Linked DNA regions of Homo sapiens. The protein of the gene in region 1 interacts with the protein of each later gene in a pairwise test. Each region holds a gene or a part of one and is shown on either strand. Other genes may lie near its edges.

Region 1 (3,375 bases):
CAGGACCTCAAATCAGAGCTCTTTCAAACTTGCTTTTGGGGGATAAATCAAGGTTAAGAAAAGTAATTAGGGGAAGACCTCTCATAAAGACCATGGCAGAGGCTCCCCATAACCTGGGCTTCCCCTACCCCCATCACAACCATCAAAGCATAATGTCCAACGTTGTATAAACGTTCACAAAAATGCAGAGATGATGTGTACTAGCTATCTAATACATTGCTGTGTAACAAATGACCCCAAAAATGTAGCAGCCTAAAGCAGTAAACATTTATTATCCACATTTCTATGGGTCAAGAATCCAGGAACAGCTTAGCTGAGTGGTTCTGGCTTGGGTCTCACGGGATTACAGTCAATGTGAGCTGGGTGCAGTCACTTGCAGCTGAGGCTCACCTCCGCGCTCACTTACGTGGCTGTCGGCAGGCCTCAGCTCCTTGCTGTCTGCTGGCCAGAAACATCCGTGTGTGGCCAGTGGGCCTCTCATGGGCTGTGTATCCTCACAACATGGCAGCCGGCTTGCCCAGGAAGAATGGTCCAAGAGAAAGCCCAAGACAGAAACCTAGTCTATTTTTTAATTGCTTCAACAATTTATTCATTCAAGAGATGGAACAAATAAATCCATTTCAGAGAAAATGGACTGAGGGTCAAAACTGGGTACAGGTCAAGGAAAAGGCAGATGTAGCTTACACTACTTTCCTATGTGTATAAAAGAAACTGATCTTTTATAACCTATTCTCAGAGGTGACATACCAACCCTTCATCTATACTCCACTGGCCACAACCAGTGGTATAACACAGGAGACTACACACAAGCCATATGAATACCAGGAGCGATCACTGTCTTGGAGGCTGGCTACTGACGGTCCTGATTATCTGGCTTAATTCCTGAGTTATATATAGGACTGAGTGTGAGTCTTTACCACACACATTCTCAGAGTTCTCAGAGCCTGGGCCTCACTCATTTCTTCTCATTTCCCTTTTAGGTCCCACGATGAAACTGAAACGGCTCACAGTTTTGGAGAAGTACAAAGGTATCATTGACTCCTTTTACCAAGAGCAAAAAATGTAATCAGGGCCTATGCCTGCAGTTTCTATAGAATAGAGGGCAGGCGTTCCGAGCCTCTTCCTGAGCCCCAGGTCTCTTCAGTCTGGGCACAGGCATTTCTGCCAAGTCTGTTAGATCTCCAGGTCAGGGCACAGCACTGGCTCTACATTTACCAGGTCTTACGCCAACAATAGCTGACAATTCCAAGAAGCTTCACGTGTGGGTAGTTTTAATTCAGTTTAAGTATTGCTTTTTGTTCAGGTGACAAATGAGATCAGCTCTCCTTCCAGAACGAAAGGGCTGATAATTTTTGGCCTTAGTTCCAGGTAGATTAAAAAGCTGCTAGCTCACATACAGGACAGCCAGCAGTAGGCTGTGGAGCGGGTAGGAGAGAGATGGCTGATACTGCTCACGTGCGCTGCAGGAAAAGCAATCAGTCACAACTCACCTAGCGACCTGACTTACTCTGGAATCTTGGCGGGCATCGCCGACCCTATTATTCCATTACCAGGCACTCCGCCACCCACATGCCAACTGACTTGATGCTTAATAAAACTGCTGCTGCCTGTTTGATTCTATTTAATGTATAATTTGAATATTAAACCTTTTAACAGAACTGTCAACAAGGACCTGATTTTTTTTGTCAATTGAGCAGGTGGGACCAGTGCAGAGAGTAGTGGGCATTTAACTCACAGGACTGTGCACAGCGGGCATGCGAGTGACCATTAGTGCCCTGGAATAAACAAAGGTGCAGGATGGGGTCAAGTGGCGCATTCTCATAAAAGCAGCCAGCTCTACGTTAGCCTGTCGCCACCAGACCACCCCACTTCCATTCTGAATACGGGAAGCAGCCATTCTCAGTAGCAAGCTGAGCCAAAATGACCGAAGGCATCTGAACAGGAAACAGGTAGAGAAAGCAAACATCTCAGTTTTGGAATTCTTTATTACTTTGAACCCAAGAGCCACTGATAACTGGCACAATCCAATGAAACAGAGGAAGCAGCAGCTTAAACAAAGGAAAATACATTTAAGATTATAAGTCTGGGGGGGCGGTTACAAGCTTAAAAAGTGACCCAGACAGGGATATCATTGCTAAAAAAAAAAAAATCCCCTTGTGACCTGGGTACATTTTGCAAAGCCACAGGTTTGCAATGTTACACAAGGGCCAAAGGAGGCCATGAGTTGTCTTTGGTTGTGGGGACAGAGGGTAACTGTTCATGAAAATAGTGAGTGTCTGAAGATTAAGAAAATCATGCTGCAGCAGAGGAGAAGGGAGAGGAAGACAGGAAGGGAAAGGAGATGCCTGAGGGTCAAAAGCTGAGCCCAAGCCTAAGCCCAAGCTCAAGCTCAAGCCCCAGCATGGCATAATTTTGTGAATTAACTCAGGCTGAGTTGCCTCCAGTCTTTGGAATGTCATCTTATACTGGTACTGCTGAGGCAGAGGGCAGTAATTGGTGCTTTGGGATAGGAGAAGGGGCAGTTGCTGAAATACAAAATTAATAGCATCCCAAGTTCCTCAATTGCAGCCAAAATACATGTGTTCGGGCCTTTCGGCAGTATCGCCCCCAGAACTACCTGCTGTAGTGTGGTCCATTCCCAGACAGCAACATGCAAGAATAAGTTTACAATACACTCAGCCCTTCTGGCTTCAGATCAGGGGCTCAGAGGCTGTGACAACTCATGATGCTGAAAATGTATCCAGTGAAAATGAAGTACTAGCTCTCTGCTTCATTAAAAGCTCTTGGAAAGAATATTAAATCTCAAGACAACAAAATAATTGAACACACAATACATTTGTGTCTTTGTATCCAATATATTACCTTTGTCTTATTAACAAAAATTATATCTCTCATTATATATTTCTTGGATCTGAAGTTTTTATTCACACTCAGTAATTTCTGTAAAGGACAAATCTGTCTCTATTTTCCATATCATTTAGAAATATACCACATTCACTCTTTTTGATGTGAACTTTCCCAGGAAAATTCTCTTGTGCCCATTTAGTTTTAGAAGAGTGTCATTTTGTGCTATTATGTCAATATCCTGTTTTATTTCCATTATGTTTTTCAAAAACCGAAGAAAATAAGGTTTTTCTTAAAAAGTTAGACATTTTCTCTTGTTAATTCTGTATCCTGTTATTTACAGCTGAAGAGAAACTATTTTAACTTAAGTGTAAAATGGTTTAGAATAGCAAATGATACAGTCCACTCAGAGTTTACAAAAAAAACATTTACCAGGTAGACACTTAATAAATAAAACAAGCACTTGGAAAAAGTTCTTTGAAAACAGACCTAGGGACATCCACCTGCATCTTTTGCACAGATTTTGTTAAG
Region 2 (3,009 bases), on another chromosome or scaffold:
AAAGCATCTCTCTCAAGCATAAAAACTTGCAGTAAACTTGGAAGTATGGAAAGTTCTATAACTGAACTTTCACTTCTCCCATTCCATACTATAACTACCAGTGACCTGGCCCCTACTTCAGCAATTTTTAGAACTGCTGAACAGAGCAAAAATATCCTTTACTAGCTGCAACATCCAAACCTCAAAAAAAGGAATTCCTTTGGATGATTCCATTCTTAAAAACTGAATGCACATCTATTTTTTTTTTAATTTTGTAAAAGGCTTTCTAAGGCTATAAGCAGTTAATCTGAACAAAACAAAACAAAACAAAAATCACATATAAAATTCACCCATGTACTTAACCCACCCAATTACTAGGTTAATTAAACATTTCCCATTTTCATATTTTGGTTTATCATGCATCTGATGACAGTGCTGCTTTCTTCTTTGTTTAGAGTCACTATTTTGAATGTGACTGTGATGAAGCATTTAAGCAAACGTGAAACCATTTTTGCAAAGCATTTATAGTCTTTTGACTTTTGACAGAGGCTATAAATAGAAGCAAAATAATTTCCTCATTTTTTTGTTACTGTGTCTCAGAAATGGCAATCCCTTTTGAATAACATGTTATACAGTATAGTATGCATAAATATTACACTACAATGCATTAAAATAATTTTATATATATCTATTATATATATATCTCCAGTATGTGTGAGTTTATCTGTATTGAGAGAGTTTGTGTTGTGCTGTCTATTGTTACTGTAAAGTTAAATTGGCCATTTCTGAGACAGCTTTGGTTTCAAAAAAAAAAAAAAAGAATGGTGCCCTTTGACTGATTAGTACTAGCAAATATGCAACAAAATGTGGCTCTGAAAACAATAACACTGAAGAAATAATACTCTAATTTGATGTACAGTCTATGGCACTTCATGAGAATCCTTAACAACATGGTACTTAAAGCCATGATGTGCTTTAAAATATACACAGTTGTGGTTTTGCTTGGCACATTCATCTCTGTCAGATCCCTCCCTCACCACGTCTTACAATCTATTACATTAAAAATATTACTCTTAAACAAAAATGACTGTGCATGCACGCTCTCATCTATAATGGCAATTTTAAATACAAGGTGCACCTTTGTTATTTGTAAACCTTGAAAGAAATAAACTTATTTTTAAAAAATTATATCTTGGTCTACAGACGTACCAATACATAATAGAATCATGGTTACACCATAGTCTGTCTTTTCAAGATGGCATGAATATATAGGAAACTAACTAGGTATGCATCTTTGAATGCATAACTCTGTGCTAGAAAAGAAAGACAATGTTGTTCTTTTAGACAGGAATATCACCTCAGCACAAATATCAATTAAATGTACAAAGTGTATAGGCAACAGTGTGCAGTGGATTTCCGGAAAATGTTGTCTTTTCTTCTGGTTAACATGCAATATGTGGATGTCTTGTGGCTGAGGAACTTTTGTGTGTGTTGCTTGACGATATATACAATATGGCTAATGACCTCGTCCTTTACTCTAACCAAGCACACTGTCCTTTCCTCTTTAGCATGATCTACAAGGGAAAAAGAGATAAGCTTTGTTAGAACAGGTAATATCTAAAAGCAGTTTCTAATATACATTTAATATGAAAATTTTCTTTTTGATTAACCAGTATATTTACATTATATCTTCATATAAAAACAAAAACCATTTTACAAGAGTAGACAGATCAAAATTTGTCTATCATCTCTACACGAATGAAATAACACGTACAATTTAATAAAACTGTAGAATGTGCTCCAAAATTTACCAATCCTAAACTAAAAGTATAAAATACATTTGCAGAATCAGGGGGCCTAATATACAGAGCTCTTTTTTAGCACAATTGTTGTAGGGCAAAATTTAAACTTCTTTTCTGAAGTTTAATAAGGTTTCAAGAGTAAAGGTCTGGTCTACAAAATTAAAATTCATGTAATATGTTCTATTAAACAAGATTTATTCTTTTTGGGTGCTTGATTAGCATAATGCATGTTTGAAAAAAAAAGAATGATACTTTAAGTGATGGCTTTGGGTAATTCAGTTTGTTGAACTTTTTTCACCTAAAACTAAGAAAATAAAAATCATTCTTTTTGAATTACAGAATTATTACTCATGAATTAAGCTGTAATAGACATTACAATGTACTTGTGGATTAACAGTTCCAGTTTTTACATGAAATTTGTTCTCAGCAGCGAATATTTACATATATTAAAAGTATGCTTCACAATACAACCTTGAAAATGAAAGAAATCATAATCTAGTGACTCAAAAACCAGTTTAAATGTTGCAACTCCTCATGAAGATGAGCAATCATTTGTTAAATGAACAGAACATTAAAAGCTTAGCTTCAATACAGACAAAACTACTGGTTTGCTAATTATTTTTAGAAATTTTTTTCAACCTGGATTATTGCTAAGAAACAGAATTTAGTTAAATATATACATACCAAACACACCTAATTGACTATAAGAGCTTGAAACAGATTTTTCTGGCATGTCAAAAAAACCTCTTCTTCTAAACCTACAACACTGCAAAGTAATGCCTCTTCTTCTACAAATGTGGCTATTGTTCAGAATCTGAACCTTTTTATCAGAACTGCTTTGAGAAAACTTATGAAATAGACAAAAATCAATTTTAATAATTCACGATTGCAGCATATCTTTGGCAGTACTTCTCCAGTTGAGCCTCTCATTTCTTTCTTAAATGGCTATTGAATTCTGCCTGTTCTCCTGCATGGGCTTTGACTTTGTCCAGCTTTGCTACAGATTAACATCACAAGGGTTTCTGAGTTGGTTCTCAGCCATCATCGTTTCCTGACTTGGCACACTGTCCTTCTTTTACAAGGCCTTTACACCTCCATTCTCTTTAGAACAACACCTTCATTGTCCACATTCATTTGTTTACGGATCCTGTTGGGAACAGCTGCTCCTTCATCTTTGCTCTAAGAGAAATTTCTTCAAACCTCTCTTATTTTACTATATTATCCTGAA

The links.
Region 2: the proteins of IDH3A (region 1) and MBNL1 interact in a two-hybrid assay, tested with the Homo sapiens proteins (one large-scale study listed by BioGRID and IntAct).

What each region holds. Positions count from the first base shown.
Region 1 is NC_000015.10:78,169,135-78,172,509, reverse strand, and holds the end of IDH3A (isocitrate dehydrogenase [NAD] subunit alpha, mitochondrial precursor), read right to left. Parts: 3' UTR 1,067-3,375; coding exon of another isoform or gene 981-1,066; 3' UTR 565-980; downstream 1-564. Other genes in the region: long-chain-fatty-acid--CoA ligase ACSBG1, read left to right, coding at 981-1,028. UniProt on the Homo sapiens protein: Catalytic subunit of the enzyme which catalyzes the decarboxylation of isocitrate (ICT) into alpha-ketoglutarate.
Region 2 is NC_000003.12:152,460,929-152,463,937, reverse strand, and holds part of MBNL1 (muscleblind-like protein 1), read right to left. Parts: intron 1,554-3,009; 3' UTR 1-1,553. UniProt on the Homo sapiens protein: Mediates pre-mRNA alternative splicing regulation. Acts either as activator or repressor of splicing on specific pre-mRNA targets. Inhibits cardiac troponin-T (TNNT2) pre-mRNA exon inclusion but induces insulin receptor (IR) pre-mRNA exon inclusion in muscle.